Linked DNA regions of Homo sapiens. The protein of the gene in region 2 purifies or fractionates together with the protein of the main gene of each other region. This does not show direct contact. Each region holds a gene or a part of one and is shown on either strand. Other genes may lie near its edges.

Evidence for each region.
Region 1: the proteins of BAZ2B (region 2) and EPB41L1 purify together in Homo sapiens (co-immunoprecipitation; one large-scale study listed by IntAct). This does not show direct contact.
Region 3: the proteins of BAZ2B (region 2) and SMARCA1 purify together in Homo sapiens (co-immunoprecipitation; one study listed by IntAct). This does not show direct contact.

What each region holds. Positions count from the first base shown.
Region 1 is NC_000020.11:36,161,118-36,164,771, reverse strand, and holds part of EPB41L1 (band 4.1-like protein 1), read right to left. Parts: intron 1-3,654. UniProt on the Homo sapiens protein: May function to confer stability and plasticity to neuronal membrane via multiple interactions, including the spectrin-actin-based cytoskeleton, integral membrane channels and membrane-associated guanylate kinases.
Region 2 is NC_000002.12:159,386,030-159,389,683, forward strand, and holds part of BAZ2B (bromodomain adjacent to zinc finger domain protein 2B), read right to left. Parts: intron 3,457-3,654; coding exon 3,316-3,456; intron 579-3,315; coding exon 324-578; intron 1-323. UniProt on the Homo sapiens protein: Regulatory subunit of the ATP-dependent BRF-1 and BRF-5 ISWI chromatin remodeling complexes, which form ordered nucleosome arrays on chromatin and facilitate access to DNA during DNA-templated processes such as DNA replication, transcription, and repair.
Region 3 is NC_000023.11:129,513,453-129,517,106, forward strand, and holds part of SMARCA1 (SWI/SNF-related matrix-associated actin-dependent regulator of chromatin subfamily A member 1), read right to left. Parts: intron 3,046-3,654; coding exon 2,879-3,045; intron 2,543-2,878; coding exon 2,442-2,542; intron 2,336-2,441; coding exon 2,235-2,335; intron 1-2,234.

The DNA.
Region 1 (3,654 bases), on a different chromosome or scaffold from region 2:
AGAGGTTGAAATGAGCCGAGATCATGCCACTGAACTCCAGCCTGGAGACAGAGCAAGACTCCATCTCAAAAAAATAAAATTAGATAAATAAATAAATAAAAAGTGAATATTCTGCTGGATACAGAGGAGACTATGTTATAGATGCTTATGACATGTACACAAGAAGCATGTCTTTGTATGCATAGGCACAGCAGTGAAACAACATGAGAACACACACAGCCACATGTATCATGCAAGCAAGGTTGTCTCTTCTAAACCCTGCACACCGATGACACCAAAGACTGTTGCCCAGGTGTTCTTGGAAATTCTGAACCAGGTGAGAGAGGAGATGGGGGGCAGGGGAGGGAGGAGACACCAAAACACCAAGAGACTCCCAGGCAGAAAAAAAGTCTCTTGTTTTGAATGATGTTTTTAATAGTCAGTTACTAAGACAACTCTTTCTGGGAAGTCAGAGGACATGTCTCTCCCATCTCCCTACAACCATGTCGCTTGGGTTGTTAGTCTCCATGTGCACCCCCAGATCCATGACCTGCTTGAAGAAGCAGGAGGCTGGCCCATTGGACTGTCCCTTGAGCTCCCTTGCCTCCTGGTTTCTGGTTCCATTTGGCCAATAGAAGACACTGGCAGGGGCCGGGCACAGTGGCTCACGCCTGCAATCCCAGCATTTTGGGAGGCCAAGGTGGGTGGATGACTTGGGGTCAGGAGTTTGAGACCAGCCTGGCCAACAAGGTGAAACCCTGTCTCTACTAAAAATATAAAAATTAACTGGGTGTGGTGGCAGGCGCCTGTAGTCCCAGCTACTAGGGAGGCTGAGGCAGACCTGGGAGGTGGAAGTTGCAGTGAGCCAAGATCATGCTACTGCACTCTAGCCTGGACGACAGAGACTCTGTCTTAAAAAAAAAATAATAAAGAAGAAGGCACTGGCAGGAATTCAGAAGGTGGAAGGAGAGAGATCCTGGGTGTATCTTCCCCAATTTCTCTCTCTGTGGTCCTGGTGGTGGCTGAGCCCCTCTGCGACAGCTCCCTGCCCACCTCTACCAGTCACGGAACTCAGGTAACACCACTCCCTCCTGCTCATTCAGGCCGAGAGCTAGTAATGCCTTCTGTCACTGTTAGTTTGTGGGTGCCTCACCATCCCATGTGGGTTCCCCTCACCCTGCTCACATCTTTATTAACATCTCCTCAGGTGAAGCATCTGAGTGGAATTCTGTTTCCTGTCAGAATCTGACTGATCCACCACCTGATGCTCACTTAGGATAAGGGGAGCCTGAGAAGAGGCAGAATAAGCTAAGAAGTCAAGGAAGGCAAGGGAACCGTCAGGAAGCCCCTTAACCTCTTTGTGCCTCAGTTTCTTCATCTGTAAAGTCATGATGATAAACTTACATACCTCACAGGCTTACTGTGAAAATGGAATCAGATCATGCCTGTAAAACACTAAACACATACCAGAATATTAGAAATATTTGCTCCAGAAATATTACTCTCCAATTAAGTCCAAAGACTAAAATGTTAACAATAGCCTTCCCTTGGAGAAGGAAATAGGGGCCTTTTTCTCCGTATTTTTCAATTTTCTACTATGAGCATGTATTACTTTCGGAGTCAGAAAAGAAAAAAGAAGAATTACAAGAAAAAAAAAAAAAAACAGAAAGAGTGCCTATTAGGGCTTATTCTTTCTCTCACTTGCTGGAGATGATGTGACTTCCTTCCCAAGGGGACTTCCCCAGTATGGAACACTCACTTCCCTGAGTGATAATGTCTACATGGACGTGAATGAAAGGATGGAGGGTACAGGCTGAGAGAGCTGCCTCTGAGACCTCAAGCCACTTTCACAGCCAGGCAAGAAGGATCAAAAAGGGAGCTGAGTCTGCAGTCATCCTGTCTGGTGCTTGGATTTGTACATGGCAGTGGGGAGACGGCAATTCGTCAGAGGTTTGCAGTACCCACGGACACCACTTTAGACCAAACAATGTGAAAAGGCCACCACCCATCAGCCTTGGCTTCTTGCCCAAAAGCTTCACGGGCCACTAGGGAGCCTCAGGCTGATGTGCAGTGGTGGGCTGGGGACCACGTGACAGCACAGAACTGCAGAGTAACAGCATTAAAACGGAGACATGCGTCCCACCTGGCCCATCCTGATGACGATGCAGAAGGCAGAGAGAGACCTCCCGTTAGCAGGGTATCCTCCGAGAGCTGGGCAACATGCTGGCTGTCTTTTGGGCTTTATCTTATTTGAGCTGCACAAGGGCCACACGGAGTAGGTGAGCTTATTTCCCAGGCGGCTTAGTGGCCAAGGCCACATGGCTAGTCAGTTTCAAGGAGAGCCAGGACTAGGACTCAAGTCTGCTGGCTCACAGTCCAGTGCTCTCCCCACTCAATGCTGCTACATCCCACGACCTCCAACTTGCTGTAAGCCATATAACCAAAGCTACTGTTGCTCTGGATGTAGAAATAATAACGGCAGTATCAATCCCTCCCACATGCAGGGCACTTTACAACTTAAAGGATCTTTTTATAATCATTTTGCTTGGACCTCACCAATTAGCCACTGTTGAGAGTGGGCAGGAAACAGCAGTTACAGACATGGGCTTATGAGCCAGAGCTGGAATCCTGATGCCACAGGCTTGGTGACCTTGGGCAGGTTACTTAACCTCTATTGAGAAGACTATCCCCTGCACCTCCAAGGTGTATAGTGAGAATTAAATGAGATAGGCAGGGTGTGGTGGCTCACGCCTGTAATCTCAGCACTTTGGAAGGCCAAGGAGGGAGGATTGCTTGAGCCCAGGAGTTTGAGAGCAGTCTGGGCAACAGAGCGAGACACTGTCTTTACCCTGTGCCCCCCCCAAATTAGCCGGGCATGGTGGGGTGCACCTGTAGTCCCAGCTACTCAGGAGGCTGAGGCAGGAGGATCACTAGAGCCTGGGAGTTTGAGGTCACAGTGAGCTGTGACTATGCCACTGCACTCCAGCCTGGGTGACAGAGTGACAGGCTGTCTTTAAAAAAACAAGAATAACGACTGGGCCTGTAATCCCAGCACTTTGGGAGGCTGAGGCAGGCAGATCACCTGAGGTCAGGAGTTCGAGACCAGCCTGGCCAACACAGTGATAACCTGTCTCTACTAAAAATACAAGAACTAGCCAGGCAGGTGGCACGTGCCTGTAATCCCAGCTACTTGGGAGGCCAAGGCAGGAGAATTGCTTGAACCGGGGAGGCGGAGGTTGCAGTGAGCTGAGATCCTGCCACTGCACTCCAGCCTGGGCAACACAGCAAGACTCCATCTCAAAAACAAAACAAAAAAACCCAAAAAACAAACAAACAAAAAAATAAGAAGAATAAAATAAAAAGAAAAAATAGAAAAACAGATAATGCACATGAAGCTTGCTCTAGCACAGTATTTGACATATAGAAGACACTCAGTGGCAGCAATGGCTCTGATCACCACCAGACAGATGGACAAACTGAGGTACAGAGAAGGTAGAAAGCTTGTCCAAGGACAGTCTGGGTGTGGGCAGCTGCACAGCCCAAGCAGCAGCTTAGAGCATCCTAAGAGAATTTGAAAATTTCCTAGGAGAGCTCCATACTGGGTGGGTGAAAGAAAGGGTCTTTCCCTGGGACATCACCACCTTTTGAGGGTGACAGAGAGATGGCCTCCTCCAA
Region 2 (3,654 bases):
GGCACATACAAGTTCTAGTTGCCTTATGAATTATGAATTCTGTTGTTGATGAATATCGCTTAAGGATTTCCTTAAATCACCTTGGTCTTTGCCTACAGCTAGAGGAAAAAAGAATAACTTGAGAATGGTCTACATTCCTTAAGCTTTATAACCAGGTTTTCTTTGTATGAAGTGTAACCTGACACAAATCTACAGTTAACTTTGTGAGACATTATGTGGAAAAATTAGATCAATCTATATAATCTTCTGCTAATATGCTAAAGCTATCTACCAATGCACTGACAGTACAAATTTAAAACATTTTATATTTTGTTTTTTTTTACCTTGTATCCTGTTATTAGACCTGGATCACATACAGCAGCTGAGAGGAGCCTCACAAGCAAGTCTTGTACTTCACCCATGCTGTCCCCTATATTTAGCAATCCCTCTTGAAGAACACTCAGGTTTGGAACATCAATATTCACATCAAAGCCCAAAACTTTACCAAAGTTTCGTAAGAACTGCACCACCATGAGACAGTCTGAAAATGTACTTCCAGAGAGAACAAGTCCTGGAATACGAGGCAACTCTGGCAAAGGCTGAAAATAAAATGAAATACAAATAAAATAAAAACAGCTTAATTTTTTAAAAGCCATGATTTCGTATCTTCTAAAGTAAAATAAGCTGCTACCTTTTTTCCCCTCTTGTATTGTACCAGTAGCTTCCTTTGGGATGCTAAATTCTCTGGGGGCATTTCTGTAACCCCCATGGAACTAAGCATAGTGTCTTGAAGTATCTTCATACAAGTAAGCAACCATTAATAAATTTTGGTTGAACTCAATTATGAACTTAGATCTTTGCAAAAGAGACATTAATTTTAATCAACTTGCATATTCAATCAACTGACATATCCATATTAACAAAACATGGATTATATAACTGGAGCAAAAATTAAATAAAATATAAACATTTCAAAAGTACTTTACCATGGACATACTTATAGGGGCATGTGCACCAATTTCTTCTAATGATGATGACATTTAAAAATCACACTTTTTTTGTAGCTTAGAAACAAACAGCATGCATCTGTGGGCTCTATGGTTGGAGAAAGTGGTACCATCTATGGCTAATGAATGCAGATAAATAACTAGGTCCACATAACTAGAATCCATGACCCTGTACATAAACCCAGTTATAATGCAACTAAAGGTCTTTAGGTTTCCCTGTATTTAGGCAAGTATTAGCTTCAGTATTAAAATTAGCTATCTCTGTTGTTATTTCTCAAATATGCTCACATATTAACATTTTAATGACTTAATTGCAGTACCAGTTGTCATCAACATTTTAAAATTTCAATAAATAGGTAATCTGAATTAAAAACATTTTGCCTGTTAATGAGAGCCTAAAAAAGTACTTTAAATTTTAATTGGAAAAAAAGTGACATAAATATTTCTATTTATCTGAATTGGTCCTTGTTCAAAAATATTTCTCCACTCTGCATTTATTGAGGTAACCAATTGAAGACTTTTTCTGTTAATACTGTGTGGAAACACAAAACTATAGATAATAGCTCATCTCATACAAATATTTTATATTCTTCTTGAAAGCCAGTTAATTCTCATTCTCCCTTTTTCTTGAACCACAGGAAACATATACATTTCTATGTAATTCTAAAAATTTATGTAGCAAAGCTGAGCTATTAAAAATATGGCTTAAAATGGACTTACATATTTGATATAGTACATATGAATTTAAATGAAAATAAAAGATACAAGAAAATGAAGCTCACTTAGGATTTAAAAAGCTTGATCACTATGAGCTTATTAAATGTGTTAACTAATTTATATACCCATTCTCTGCTTAGGAAAATTTAAATATCCAAATGACTACAACTAGTAAGTATACTCTCATTTTTATTTAGAAGCATTTATGCTAAGTAAATAAATAGAATATTAATATAGTTCAATCCATTCTAGAGTACTAAAAGTTTTCTTTAAGCACTTTAGAAAAGAGCTTACATAATTGAGTTAATGGGTGCAGCACACCAGCAGGGCACATGTATACATATGTAACTAACCTGCACATTGTGCACATGTACCCTAAAACTTAAAGTATAATAATAATAAAATAAAATAAAAAAAGAGCTTACATAAATCAAGAGATAATCATTATTTGCAAATCATTTGAATATTGCATATAAGTAAATACATATCCTACTAATTAAGTATAATAATATAGAGATGAAATGCATTATTGATATTTTTCTAGAAGTACCATCTTCTTAACTATAGTCAAAACATCATTGATTTTTACTCAAAAGTATATGAAATTATGCTGGTTGCCAAGATTACAGCAATGTTTCTAAATTTATACTTTTATGTATTTCAGCAACATTACATGTCTGTGAAGCACTATGGAAGACAAAACACATATGAGGTGCTTTGGTTGGACACAGTTTCTTGGCTTTCAGGATGATAAACAGTATAGGCTCTGGAGTTTAACAAACTGGAGTTTGAATCCAAATCGCCATTTATTAGTTGTGTAATCTTGGGCAAGTTCCTTAACCTCTTTGTGTCTCAGTTTTCTCATGTATAAATGGGAAGAAATACTAACTCCACAAGATTGTATTGAGGATTAAATGAGAAAATTCAAATAAGTGCTTAGCACAGTCCTAGCATGTAGTAAACATGTTCAATAAAGGTTTGCCACCTAAAGCACTGAAGGAGGTCACAGATTATAAATCCTCATTTATTTAAATATCCATAGGGATGTGGGGAGGAGTTGAGATTTTTCTGTGCCTGGAATCCCAGAACTTTGGGAGGCTGAGGTGGCTGTATCACTTGAGCCCAGGAGTTCAAGACCAGCCAGGACAACATAAGAGTCTGCCGCTACAAAAAATTAAAATAACAAAAACCCAAAAAACTAGCCAGGCATGGTGGCAAGCGCCTGTGGTCCCAGCAACTCAGAAGACTGAGGTGAGAGGACCACTTGAGCCTGGGAACGAGAAGTTGAGGCTTCAGTGAGCTATAATCCTGCCACTGCCCTCTCTCCAGCCTAAATGACAGAGTAAGACCCTGTCTGAAAACAACCAACCAACCAACCAACCAACCAACCAACCAAACAAACAAACAAAAAAACCGCCATTACCAGCACAAGAGCTCCAGAGAGGTTTACTTCTAGCTATCTAGGAAAGGCAAATTGACCTAGAGTTGGAAATTCACTGCTATAGTTAAAAATGAAAGGCTTTCACAATAGCAGCTCTGGCAAAGAAATCAGGTAAGAAAACTGGAAAAATTAAACTTATGAATGAAATGGTGTACATGACGTATAAATTACCTTTTGGTCTGCTAAGCACATGTCTTCATTAGGCTTCTTTAGTTCCTTTGCCATTTCTAATTCTAATCTTCGCTGCTCTAGTTTACGCTCTTTATTTAATCTTTTCTCATCACGTTTTTCTTGTTTCAACCGCTCTTTTTCCTTAAAAAGAAAACCATGTACACATATTCTTCTTAATCATTATATATGTTGGAATAAACTTAGAATTATGTAGCAACATTGAATTATTTTGCTTTTCATTAATCTTACTCTCTAATTTTCAAAATAATCTTATGACTGTATATATTTAATATCAATATTAGATTTGACCTAGACTATTTTGTTATTCAAAATTTGTTC
Region 3 (3,654 bases), on a different chromosome or scaffold from region 2:
GGTGGAGGTTGCAGTAAGCAATGATCACGCCATTGCACTCCAGCCTGGACAACAAGAGCAAAACTCCATCTCAAAAAAAAATTATATATATATATTAAAAAAAGTAAGTATATATTATATATATTTATATATTATATATTATATATATAATACATATATCTGATATCAGCACAAATTCATCACTAAAGATCAGATCCTTCATGTTTAGACAGGCTGAAGCCAAGAGCTGCTTGGGGCAAATAATCCTGGTCCTTCCATTGTCCAATTAACCAAGCTCCTCCCCCTCTGAGCTGACAACAGTCTTCAAACTAGAATACCTAAATATAAGGAGCTACAGACCCTTGCTTTAAGGGATCCTCTGCCACACACCTAACAGTTGCTCAACCAGGGATGAGTACTTATGCGACTGACTACCAACTATACTAGACGCCATAGGGCACGTATCATCATGTGGCTCTTCTGGATAATAGTGATTACAAGTATGGTTTCAGAGTCACATAAATATGAGTATCATTGAGTTATATGGATTTAGAACTTTCCCTGCCCTCTCTTAAATCGCATTTTATTAATTTGGTCTTAAAATACAAATATGGGGCCAGGCACAGTGGCTCACGCCTGTAATCCCAGCACTTTGGGAGGCCAAGGCGGGAGGATCACGAGGTCAGGAGATCGAGACCATCGTGAAACCCCGTCTCTACTAAAAAAATACAAAAAATTAGCTGGGCGCGGTGGCGGGCGCCTGTAGTCCCAGCTACTCGGGAGGCTGAGGCAGGAGAATGGCATGAACCCAGAAGGAGGAGATTGCAGTGAGCCGAGATCATGCCACTGCACTCCAGCCTGGGCGACAGAGCGAGACTCCGTCTCAAAAAAAAAAAAGCCTTCATGTATTCCCCCTTTAGCTGATGAATTAGCATCTTATATGCCTTACTTTTTCCTGTTCAGTTATTTTATTTACACATTTATAACTCCTTCACTGATTTCCAAAGCCCCACCATGCACTGTACTGTATCAAGATTCAACATTACTCTTTATTCGTTCCTTATTCCACCTATGCACTTTTTGATTGTTCACAAGTCAAAATATTGATAATCATTCACACATGCATATATTCAGGCAGTCATTTACATATTGTTTGGTTTGTATACCCCACCTTATTCCCAAAAGGATTTCAGGTAGCCTACAATGAAAACATGGAACATAAATTAATGGCAAAATAGAAATAAAGAGACGACAAGGAAAGTAAGAAAGACAAGTAGATAAAGAATAGGAAAAGACAGAAGGACACACAGGGCAGACCATTAAAGGTTACATAAGGCCAGGGTGGGGGTGGCTCACACCTGTAATCCCAGCACTCTGGGAGGCCGAAGCAGGTGGATCACAAGGTCAGGAGTTCAAGACCAGCCTGGCCAAAACGGTGAAACCCCATCTCTACTAAAAATACAAAAAAATTAGCCGGACGTGGTGGCAGGCGCCTGTAACCCCAGCTATTCAGGAGACTGAGACAGAGAATTGCTTGAACCTGGGAGGTGGAGGTGGCAGTGAGCTGAGATCGTGCCACTGCACTCCAGTCTGGGTGACAGAGCGAGACTCCATCTCAAAAAATTTTAAAAAAAAAGTTACATAAAGGCATCATTTGGGCATCCATCTTGACTCTGTGCTTCCTGGAAGCCAAAATGCAAACAAAAACAAAAGTACAGAGAAGGTTTTTGGACCATTTGAGGAAAGCTCAGTAAGAGTTTTATGGCCTGTGAAAGTCTGTGTTCTAGCGGTGACTTAACGAAACAATTCTAGCTGGGTGCTGTGGCTCACACCTGTAATCCCAACACTTCGGGAGGTCGAGGTGGGAGGACTGCTTGAGCCCAGGAGTTCAAAATCAGTGTGGGTGACGTGGCGAGACCTGTCTCTACTAAAAATAAAAATAAAAATTAGCCCAGTGTGGTGGGCACGTGCCTGGAGTCGCAGCTACTCAGGAGGCTGAGGCAGGAGGATCGCTTGAACCCAGGAAGTCGAGGGTACAGTGAGCCGAGATTGCACCACTGCACTCAAGCCTGGAAACACAAAGAGATCCTCTCTCAAAAAAATAATAATAATTCTAAGACTACAAAATACCTTTTACATGATAACAACTTTTAAAAAGCCTCCAGGCATCAGGGGGGCAGGTAAGCTCAGGTTTTTCAAATTTACATAAAAATCATTGATAACTGAGAATGTGTTTTTAGCTACCAATTCCTTACCATTTCATCAGCCAAAATGCCATTGACTCCATTTTCATATAAAGAGATCAACCAATTCAGTCCTCGAATCTGATAATCTCTCAGTGGCCCCCCTTTCACATCTGGTGAAAAAATGCAAGGACATTTCATACTTTCATTAACATACTCAAGTAAAATTTTTCTAAAACTAAATTGAAAAAGAACTCACCAATGTGATGAAGTACTTACATGAAGGTGACACCTCAAATCTAATACACACATTAGATGTTTTCCGACTCTCAGACAGTAGCTCTTCATCTTCTTCTTGCTCTGTGCGCCTATGGCGGTAGCTGAAATTAAAAAAGGAAATCCCTTCATATTCGACCTAAATGATAAGGTATCAATTAAATCAGTGTACATGGCTATTATCTTTTATAGAAAAAGAATGAGTTGTCCAAGGTCTTGCTTAGAAATCAGTAGAACCAGCCTACATTTTTACTGATCAGCCTCTAGTGAGAAAAAAATATAGTTGTCTTCAAAACATAATTATAATGGCAATATTTTTTGTCACATGAAGGTATACTGAACAATGAAGAGCGAAGGGGTGCATGAAGGGATCAAGGGAGGACAGGAGGAAGAAAAGGTAGGAGAAAGGAAAGAAAGTAGAGAGAGAGGTGCCAACATACTCTCCAGCAGAAATTAAGCTCTGCTTTTCATCTTTCTTTATTCGGGGACGTCCCAATTTCATGTTCAGTGGAGATGTTGGAGATTTCTGTGCTGAAGGCTGAATGAAATGTGCAAAAAGTTCTGTCTGCTTCAGTAAAAATTCAAATCTCTTTGCTCGGTCGGCTTTCTAATTTGCAAAACAAAAGAAAAGTAAGGACTTTCCTTTTCATTCCTTCAAAGTTATTTAACAAATACTTACTTTGAACAACATTCTTAGCACTTGAAACATTAATCCATTCAATTCTCTTAAGAAACCTATGACGTAATTACAAGTATCATCTCCATTGTAACTACATGATACTGAAGCACAGAGAGGGTAAGTAATTTGCCCAACCTTGCACAGCTAATAAGCAGCAGAATTTGAAAATGTATTTTCAAATAGTTTGAAGGGAAGAAAAATTATCTGACAGACAGTAAATTCCCCAATAAGAAATACCCTTCTTAAAGAGTCATAATCATAAAGCAAATCCTCTTTCCAAAACATCATTTTATTAAATAAAATAGTAACAAAATTAAGCATCAAATATATAACATATCCCAAATATTGAAATATAAATTAACTATGATATATATACCATAAACTGAACTCTTAAGAATTTCCAAGTTGTATCCAGAAATAACTTAAATCTTAAAATACAGTATCATCTTGTCTCAAAATATTTTCAGTGTCATGGTATAGTAATGTAATAAACACTCCTCTCTTCACTCACAGGGATCTAGAAAACTGTATTTTGTG